3 separate regions of the Homo sapiens genome follow, and all the other regions are reported to be linked to region 1. Evidence: microRNA targets listed by miRTarBase, many of them from high-throughput screens and not tested one by one. Region 1 holds a microRNA gene; each other region holds the end of a gene's coding sequence.
Evidence for each region. Region 1 holds the annotated microRNA hsa-miR-6719-3p (UCUGACAUCAGUGAUUCUCCUG, at 1,841-1,862, opposite strand). A microRNA usually pairs through its seed, bases 2 to 8, with sites in the 3' UTR of a target mRNA and lowers its output. Matches are read on the target gene's strand: a 7mer-m8 pairs with bases 2 to 8, a 7mer-A1 pairs with bases 2 to 7 and ends in A, and an 8mer does both.

Region 1 (3,254 bases):
CGGATCCTGGGCCCTTCTGGGTCACCAGGCAGAGGCTGACATTCCATAAGCCCTATACCATCGTCACTTTTAGTGGCAGCTCATACAGAGCTGCAAAGTTGAAGCCTTCCACCTCCATCCTCAGCTTTAAGAACAGAGAAGACAAAAACTTAGCGAGGCAGCACCCCTGGCTCAAACCCAACCCAACTTCACCCTGTTCACATCTGGCAGCTTCAAAATGGGCCCTGCCCCTCAGGCTTCACCCTTCCCATCCTAGTGGGCAGTATATTCACACCCCCACCCCAAGCATTATCCCTCAGTTCCCACGGCTCCTAATAATCCCATCCCAGCCAAGCCCCGCCCCTAAGCCTCCCGTTGGCTCTGCCCCACCCAAACTACTAGCCGTGCTCCCAGGACCGGGCCGCCCCCTACCCTCTGGCCAAGCTGGCAGGAGCTGCCGAAGTCCACAATCTTGATGGCGCTGCGCTTGGGGTTGCACAGCAAGATGTTTTCGGGCTTGAGGTCGCAGTGAATGATGCTGAGCTCAGGCGTGGCCAGAAAGAGCAGTGCCGTGCAGAGCTGCTGCGCCAGCTTCCGGGTCAGGTTCAGCGAGACGCCGCGGAAGTGGGTGTTGCGCAGGAGGTCGTACAGGTTGTAGGACAGCAGCTCAAATACCAGGCACAGGTGGTTCCGGAACATGAAGTGCCGCTTCAGGTGTACTGCGGGGGAGGGGAGGAAATGGGCCAGAGAAGAAACGGCTCAGAGAGGGCAGGTGGTGGCCTGGGGTCATACAACGCTCTTTGATTACTAGCCACATTGTGCTGTCCCCACGGGTACCATCTGCTAGTCAAAATCTTTTTATCTAACAACTAGATTCACACAGGAAGTTAATGCTCTTTCCAAGTCTCTGTCAAACCCTCCAATTAAACCAAAGAGAAAGTTTCATTAGTTACTACTAGCTCTAACACATTCTACACTTCCTCATTTAATTTCATAACACTGCTTTCATCTCCCTTGTATTCATTTTTGTGGCAAAGGACACTGGTTTTCCGTTTACTTTAAGGATATACGTTTTCCTTTCAAACGAAACCATTTTAAAATCCACTTGCTGTTTATGATTATGTTGTGATGTTTATGTCCATGAGCAGGAATCAGTTTAAGGGAGGAGAAAGACTGGCACAGATGTTAAGAGTAACAGCTCTGGAGTCCACGACCTCATCAAATTATAGCTCAATTAGTACAAACTGCCACCTCATGCAAGTGACAGCACTTGAATGCCTGAGTTTCTTTTTTCCTTTCTTCGTTTTTTTTTGTTGTTGTTGTAACTGTTGTTGTTGTTATTAGGTTTGGTTTTTTGTTTGTTTTGGGTTTTTTTTTTTTTGAGATGGAGTCTCGCTCTGTCATCAGGCTGGAGTGCAGTGGCGTGGTCCCAGCTCACTGTAACCTCCGCCTCCCAGGTTCAAGCGATTCTCCTGCCTCAGCCTCCTGAGTAGCTGGGACTACAGGCGCGCACCACCACATCAAGCTAATTTTTTCACATTTTTAGTAGAGACGGGGTTTCACCATGTTGGCCAGGATGGTCTCGATCTCTTGATATCATGATCCGCCCACCTCGGCCTCCAAAAGTGCTGGGATTACAGGCGTGAGCCACTGTGCCCAGCCCGTTTTGTTTGTTTTATTGAAGAAGAAACTAGGATGGAAGCCCAGGTTTCTTATCTTCAAGATGTTGTTAATAATGCCCTTCCCCTTATGGGCTGTGGTGAGTTAACTTCCAAGTGCTTCCAAGAGAGCCTGGCCCTTGGTGAGCACTCAGTAACCTCTGACCATTACCAAGAAAATAGGACAAAAATCATAAAAGCAGCAGGAGAATCACTGATGTCAGAGAAGCACAGACCAAACCCTGCTCTGAAGACATCAGCCTCCTCCTGAGAGTAGGGCGGGGGTGTGACCCATCCCTACTGGCTCCAGCTCCCGCTATCCCAGGTGCCCACAGCCCTGCCAGTCCCAGGCCTCACCTATATAGTACTTCATCTCCGTGTCATGCTGGTTCATCAGCTCCAGCAGCCGCAGCTCAATCTGGGCCTGGTTCAGGAAAGCCTTTTTGTTCTTGATGATCTTGATGGCCACAAGCTCCTGGGTCTGATGATCATAGGCTTTCACCACCTGTTGGGGCAGGGCATGTCACGAAGAAAGGGGTGGGAGCAGGGCAGAGCCAGGCACCATTCTTCTCCCTCCAGGCAAGGAGACCCACCAAGAACACTATGCATACTTCGCAGCTGAGTGCGCACCATTAGTCAGGCGCTGGTGTAAACACTGGATGTGAAATAACATAACGACCTTATGTTGAGTCTTGTTATTTAAACTGTTTTACAGAAAAGGCGACTGAGGCACAGGGAAACTAAGTGGGCTAGGGTGAGTGGCCCAGCATGGGACTTGAAGCCACTGAACCACTGGGTGTGTGATCAATGTTAGTGGGGCCTTGGATCAGGGTGGTGGGGGGTGTCCCACACCTGGCCAAAGGAGCCTTTGCCAATGAGCGAGTCAATTTCGTAGCGCTCCAGCCAGCGCTCGCCACTGCGCACGATGTAGTCATGGTTGTCGTCATCATAACCATGGTTCAGGACCTTCTTCTCCTTCTTGTTGCTCGAATCCTGGGGTGGCGCCTGCTGGGCCCGCCGCTTCTTCTTCGCATAGTATACCTGCCCAGCCAGCCAGCCAGGAGATGGGGACTGGTGAGTGACTCATGCCAGCAGACAAGACCCTCGGCACCCAGCCCAGGATCCCCCAGCCCCTGCCCACCTCATTGATGTGCTTGTAGGTCTTGATGAGGTCCACAGAGAGCTTACGCAGCGGGGCTGAGGTTGCATCCCGGAAGGCCAGGGGCAGCCTCCGAGGCAGTAGCCGCACATCAGGCAATACCTGCAGGGCAGGGTGAGGGGTGGGCACTGAGGACGTGCCTTCACCTCCGACCTCAAGAGGAAGAACTGTAAGGGCTGCTGGCACATCATGTATTTGGTTGCTGTCTGTATTTGTTCCACCTGTCTAGGAAAGAAACTCCCCCAGGGCTGAGACTTTCTCTTGTTCTTACTATACCTCCAGTGCCTACAGCAGGGCCTGGCACACAATGGATGCTCTTAGAGATCTGTGGTGTGAATGAGTGAACTCTGACCTTTCACCCCTCACCTTTACTCCTTTCTGAACCTCAGAGGGAGAGATCATATGGAAAACCTGGGCTCTGTTCCTCCCCATTCTTCACTTTGAAGCCAGCCATTTTG
Region 2 (3,232 bases), not on the chromosome of region 1:
AACCCCAGGGGGGCGGAGCTTGCAGTGAGCCGAGATCACGCCACTTCACTCCAGCCTGGGCAAAAGAGTGAAACTCCATCTCAAAAAAAAACAAAGAAAAGAAAAGAAAAATGGGACATGCCCTTGCCAGTTTGCCCAGCCCCACCACCACCAGTCCCGCTTGCTTCACTCATTCATGTTATCTGCTGGCTCCTTGTAGGCATCTGAGTTTGCCAGCCTGGCAGAGTTTGATTAGGAGCCTGGGTTCTGAATCACAGCAGCTCACAATTTCTCTGAGTCTTGGGCTACTCATCTGTGTATGGGGGTCTAACAGTACTGACGTCAAAAGGTTGTAGTGGGAAGTGAATAAGATAATCGTTTAGCACGGTGTCTGATGCATAGGAAGGACGTTTGCTAATTAGCACATGCTTGCAAATGTTATTTTTCAAACCACAGGTACTGAAACTAAATTCCAATCCAGTTGAAAACTATAGGTAGTCTTTTGGAGTTTTGTACTGATGTACAATCCATAATATTTGGGCAGCTAAATTCTATTTTGGTTTTAAAAGGAAGAGACCGGGAGGAATTGGAGTTTGATGTTTTATTCAAACTCCTGTTTGAATAAACAGTAGCTTGGTAAGCCTTGGATCCTCCTGAGTCCCTGTCTCACCCCTTGCCTCTGTATCTTTTTCTTCATTTCAGGACACCAGTAAGGAGCTGGATGAATGAGAGGCCCCCAGATGCAGAGAGACTGGAGAGGGTGGGGAGGGGCCCAGCGGCCTTGGTGACAGGCCCAGGGTGGGAGGGGTCGGGGCCCCTGGAGGGGCAATGGGGAGGTGATGTCTTCTCTCTGCTCAGAGAGCAGGGACTAGGGTAGGACCCTCACCGCTGCGTCCAGCAGACACTGAACCAGAATTGGAAACGTGCTTGAAACAATCACACAGGACACTTTTCTACATTGGTGCAAAATGGAATATTTTGTACATTTTTAAAATGTGATTTTTGTATATACTTGTATATGTATGCCAATTTGGTGCTTTTTGTAAAGGAACTTTTGTATAATAATGCCTGGTCGTTGGGTGACCTGCGATTGTCAGAAAGAGGGGAAGGAAGCCAGGTTGATACAGCTGCCCACTTCCTTTCCTGAGCAGGAGGATGGGGTAGCACTCACAGGGACGATGTGCTGTATTTCAGTGCCTATCCCAGACATACGGGGTGGTAACTGAGTTTGTGTTATATGTTGTTTTAATAAATGCACAATGCTCTCTTCCTGTTCTTCAAAGGAGCCGGGGTTTCATTCAGCCTTTTTTTCCTGGAGATGAGGGTTGAGTGTGAATGAACAGGACCCCTGGTAGGAGGCAATGGCAGGGCTAGGCTTAGGTCCCAGTAAAGGAGTTCTCGACACCACCATTTCCCAATGTGGACTCCATGGAAAGCCAGCCCTGAGCTGGTCCTTCAAGAACAGGTTCAATGTGTTGTTGCTCTGGTTCTCCAGAAAACAGAGCCTGAGGCAAAATTTAAATGCTTTAGTTGCAGGTTATAGGGACTTCCCCGTGCTCACTGAAGGCTCACTGAAGGCTCACTGAAAATCATCAAGAAGAGGCAGATTAAGGCTGGGCAGGTGCAGTGGTTCATGCCTGTAATCCCAGCACTTTGGGAGGACAAGGAGGGCAGATCATCTGAGGTCAGGAGTTCCAGACCAGCCCGACCAACATGGTGAAGCCCCGTCTCTACTAAAAATACAAAATTAGTTGGGCGTGGTGGCGCATGCCTGCAATCCTAGCTACTTGGGAGGCTGAGGCATGAGAATTGCTTGAACCCAGGAGGCGGAGGTTGTAGTGAGCCAAGATCGCACCACTGCACTCCAGCCTGGGCAACAAGAGTGAAACTCCGTCTCAAAAAAAAAAAAAAAAAAAAAAGAGGCAGATTAATAGGAGAAAAGGCAAACAAATACACAAATTTATTTGACCATGGTTTTATGAGATACAAGAACCTTCAGAATGAACACCCAAAGATACAGGAGAAACTGTCCATTTTTAGGCTTCAGTTCAACAAAGTATGGATGGCCGTGTAGAAATACGGTTGGACAAAAGAGCCTGATCTAATGCTGATAGACTGAGTGGGGAACCCAGCGAGGCCTGTCTGTCAAGATTCTTTTCGGCCTCTCTGCGCAGCATTCCTTCCTTCCTCATATGGCGCAGGACTCTCTCTGGATGGGGGTCTTCTGACCTACAATCAGACAAAGGTCAAATAATTTCCTATGGCCAATTTTACACAGAAAGAAAGAGGAAAGTTAGAGTAATATTTTTAGGTTTTAGGGCAGGCTTTTGGTGAAGAGGGATTGTAGTTTTTATAGCTAGCCTTGGGGGAGAATAAGGGACCAGAGACAGGAGGGCAGGAGAAGGTCAGAGAGAAATGTTTGCTTCCGAGGGAGGCCTTCATTTCGGGGTATTGTTTTCTGAGACCCTATGAGGCACACTCCCAAGGCCAACAGAGGGAAGGAAAATGGAAGCGAGGCAGGCAAGGAGGGAAGCAAGTACAAGGTGTCACGTGGCTGAGCTGGCCACAGCTTCACCAAAGACTGGGCTGGCTGCTTAGTCATGTGAGATGTTTCCAGCAGGCCATAAAGAACAGAACATGATTCAAAGTCCTTCATCTAGAGAAGAAAAAAAAAAAGAAATGTGTCTGCTGGCTCCTTCCTGTCTCCCGCCTCCCATACTGTTCATTCCACCTTGACTTCAGGTGGTGCAGGTGCAGGGGCAGCAAGGTCACCTGCCCCATTGGGTGGTACTTCAGCTGAGTCTGGAGATGGTGGGAGGTGCCAGGGCCTCCATGGTCCAGTTGGGTTGGACAAGGGTGGGGCAGCTGCTGTCTCCACCTCAGTGAACACAATGGGGCCAGGCTGGTGCCCAGACTCACGCCAGGAAAGGCCAAGTCAGCCACCGGCAGTAGGGGATGAATTCATGACTGTGGCCCAGTAGCATCCAGGATCTCCATGAGCAAGAAGCCAAGGGCCTGGAGAGAGGCAAGGCTGAGCGAATCCGAGGCAGCGCATTCACCGGGGCTGATACACCAGAGACTTACAACTTTGAGGAGCATTGCAGAGCCTGTTCCCCCTTTTAGACATTCAGATCACAGTAGCAAATTAAGGGGTCCGAGTCGTCCCACCGTAAAGAAAGCGAATTAACTTTAGATGAGGACCATCAAGTTCATGGTGCTTGGAATGCTGCCTGACCCTAAGTCTTTCATTTTG
Region 3 (3,254 bases), not on the chromosome of region 1:
TGCCTACGATGCTGTTCTTGCTGCAGGAGACTCCTGGAAGGAGCTTGCCCACCGAGCCTTTTTCCATGGTGGAGACAGTGATTCTACAGCTGCCATTGCTGGCTGCTGGTGGGGAGTTATGTATGGTTTTAAAGGAGTGAGTCCCTCCAACTATGAGAAACTAGAATACAGAAACCGGCTGGAAGAGACAGCTAGGGCTTTATATTCTCTCGGGTCAAAAGAAGACACTGTAATTTCCCTTTAGGGAGACGTGATGTTCACTTCTGATGGATTCTTCTTTTGTGTATTTCCTTTTCTGCTATTTCTTTTCAGTTTTTCCAAAGTCAAGAGTCTTAACCTTGTACTCAGGGAATTTTGAGATAACAAGTCCCTTGGGCACCTTAAGCTCAGTTTTTTCAGGCTCATCCTGTTCTTCCAGAATCTATCCCTTTTCTTACACTGAAGAGTCCTTTAGCTCAATTGATAGGGTCAGCGTCTCGCAAGCAAAAAATCTCATGACCTCATATTTGAGTCTTCATTTTCATCATCTACTTGTTCTAAAAGTTTTTTCTGTTTGTCTCAAGTTGGGTTCCCACAAAGTGGACTTTGAGACAAAGATCTGAATGCAAGCAGTTTATATGGGAGATGATTCCAGGAAATACCGATATGAGAATGGGGAAATGAAACCAGGAAGGGAAGAGAGCTAGTATGGGGTATGTTAATGAGCAGGTTTCCACTGTGGGCGGTTGGCACTCTGCCATCTGAGTCCTCTGCCTAAAGCATTCCTCAGAACTGTCCCATTTGAAGGGCAAGCAAACCTGGGGTATTTATCCACTGACTTCCATCTGACACTGGTTGAGGACCACTGCCAGGGATGCTAACTCCCTGGTAATTCTTGGCTTACCCTTTGTACAAACCAAACCTTAGTGTCTTCAGGTAAAGACTCAGAGATACTTGCAGGGGCAAGCTGTAAAGGGCATGGGAACAGTGAGGGACATATGTGGGGTCCTAACAATATCTGCTAGGCTGGTCTACCTCCTAAATATACTCTGAATCTATCACCTCTATTGCCTTCTTGCACTGAGGATTTTTCAGCTGGATTTCTGCAATCCAAGCTACTCAAGTCTGGGAGATGCTGCTCTGAGCTGCTCTCAGTACTCTCCTCATCATGGCAGTTAACACATTACCAATTTTGTTATTGTCTGTTTGCTTGTTTGCATTATTTCTAAACAGAACCTAGCACAGTGCTTGGGCAGCCAATAGGCATTAATCAGTATCTATTGAGTGTTATGAACTAGCCTCCTAGCTCGTGCTTCCCTCATTACCCTCCAGAGTTATGTTTACGAATAACAAATTGACCATGCTAAACTAATCATGTTCCAATGAATACATCACCTTTCTTCATTTCTTGATGCTCTTCCCAATCCTTGTCTACCTGATAATAAATTCTTACTTGTCCTTCAAGACCCAACTCAGATAGATAGAGCTTCCTGAGTGAAACCTGCTTTGATTGTTCAGGCACTTGGCCACCTTCTCCTCACTCCTCCCACAGCCTTCTGTCTTGGCCTTGTCATCACATCAATCCTGTTGTGTGGTGCTGTGTGTCTTCTGGGTCAGTCCTAGGCACATGCTGCCCAGCACATGTCCACCTGGGAAATGAGATGCCATCGTCACATTCATTTGGTCACCCTCAGTCCAGCCAGTGGGCTTGCTCTCATTTGGCCTGTTCTCAGGGGTGGGAAGGAAGAGCGTCCCTTCCTTCTCCTTTTGAGAAAACCACAGAACTATGACTCTCATGATTTTTCCTTTGTGAAATCCCTGGTTTTCAGCTGGAAGCGGTGGGTAAATGAGGTCTGATGATAGCAGTCCTGCCACCTTCTAGTTCATCCCATAGGAATGTTTTTCCAAGTCCTTCCAGTCTTTTTAGAACGTGGTGGAGGAGGGTTGTGTGTGCCCCAGGGGGTCGGGGGTAGGGGATGCAGGGAGGATCTTAGCATTTGTTGTTTTCTAGTGCAGGGCTTTAGCCACAATTGTAAACAACAGGAAAAGGCTCTTTAGAGATCCTATTAGATTTGCTTTGCCGATTGTCACTCTTCATCACAGGCACATTTCAAAAAGAGGTTAGACTTTCAGACTTCTTTTTTCTCAAACCTCAAAACTTCCACCCCAAACTTCGCTCTCAGCTGGTGACTTTGCTTCTTTATGTGTGTGTATGTGTGTCAGAGAAAGAGAGAGAGAGAGAGAGAAGGGAGGATGAGAACGAATGGGGGGAAGAGATAAACTTTATGCATAACATTAGGGTAAATCAATAAAGATGGTCTGACACATCGTATGAATTTGCCATTCTTATCAAGTTAATCTATGCATATTGAACAACAGAAGAGGTCATATGTGACATTTCAAATGATGCTTTTTGGACCTGCTGTGTGATGCTGCTTCATTTGCTTTCTTTGTTAGCCAAGATTGCTACATGTTGTCTAGAAGTCTTGGCAATAGTTGTTTTTTGTTTATTTGTTTGTTTGTTTTAGATCTATAAAATTAGCATTGACCTCATTCACTCTTCTTCAAGATTCTCCAACCACCACATTCTCCATTTATTCTTCTTTCTGTACCTATCTGGAGCGAGTAAACTTGCATCTTTTTAAAACAGCCACTGAGCTACTAGGACATTGAGGGGAAGGAATGGGGATTAACTTCACAATCCAACCAGCCTCCCCGGCCAGCTTCTCAACAATGGCTGCCTGGGGTCTCACTGAGGATCCACAGGTCATTTAGATAGGGACTGGGGAGCAGCCTACCATCATTTGTTTTACTCTCTGGGCTTGGGGGTTGAGAAGAGTAATTCCTAGGGAGTAGGTGAAGCTCTTTCCATTTGGGGAAGGATAAAGAACAGAGGAAGAGAATATTGCTGTGTGTCAGATCATTCACAACAACCCATTAATAGATGAAGAAATTGGGCTCAGAGAGGTTGCCATCTGTCCAAAGTCACACAGGATGAGATGGAACTGGGGTTTAAAACCAGGTCTGTTTATCCTACAAAGGATGGAAAAGAACCAAACCAAGGTGCTTTTCCCAGTCTCATGCAGCACTCACACTTCTGACACCCAAAGGTGTGAGAGTTGTTTCTCCATGCACCAAGCAAGTTTCTAACAGACACCAAGTGAGTGTCCTCTAATTCAGTTCCGATGCTATCTTCTGGATGATAGCATCAGATTCCACAAGTTAAGGCACAAGACTGCCCCCTCCTCCCCCTCACCACTGCTTCAGATGCTGAC

Region 2: miRTarBase lists TRIM63 as a target of hsa-miR-6719-3p. Seed matches in the 3' UTR shown: 7mer-A1 at 1,071-1,077.
Region 3: miRTarBase lists ADPRH as a target of hsa-miR-6719-3p. Seed matches in the 3' UTR shown: 7mer-A1 at 2,197-2,203.

Annotation. Positions count from the first base shown.
Region 1 is chr19:39,827,886-39,831,139 of GRCh38, forward strand. It overlaps MIR6719 (microRNA 6719), which reads right to left and starts at 1,917; the gene lies at 1,831-1,917. It overlaps DYRK1B (dual specificity tyrosine phosphorylation regulated kinase 1B), which reads right to left. Exons shown (of 11, transcript NM_004714.3): 3 at 2,779-2,898; 4 at 2,490-2,678; 5 at 1,995-2,142; 6 at 412-698.
Region 2 is chr1:26,049,333-26,052,564 of GRCh38, reverse strand. TRIM63 (tripartite motif containing 63) reads left to right here. Exons shown (of 9, transcript NM_032588.4): 9 at 682-1,264. The coding sequence ends at 692. It overlaps LOC105376910 (a long non-coding RNA gene), which reads right to left. Exons shown (of 2, transcript XR_001737948.2): 1 at 2,520-3,232; 2 at 1,911-2,208. Among named protein-coding and RNA genes, the nearest start is that of SLC30A2, 4.8 kb to the right of the region's middle.
Region 3 is chr3:119,587,635-119,590,888 of GRCh38, forward strand. ADPRH (ADP-ribosylarginine hydrolase) reads left to right here. Exons shown (of 5, transcript NM_001125.4): 5 at 1-2,311. The coding sequence ends at 244. Among named protein-coding and RNA genes, the nearest start is that of PLA1A, 8.6 kb to the right of the region's middle.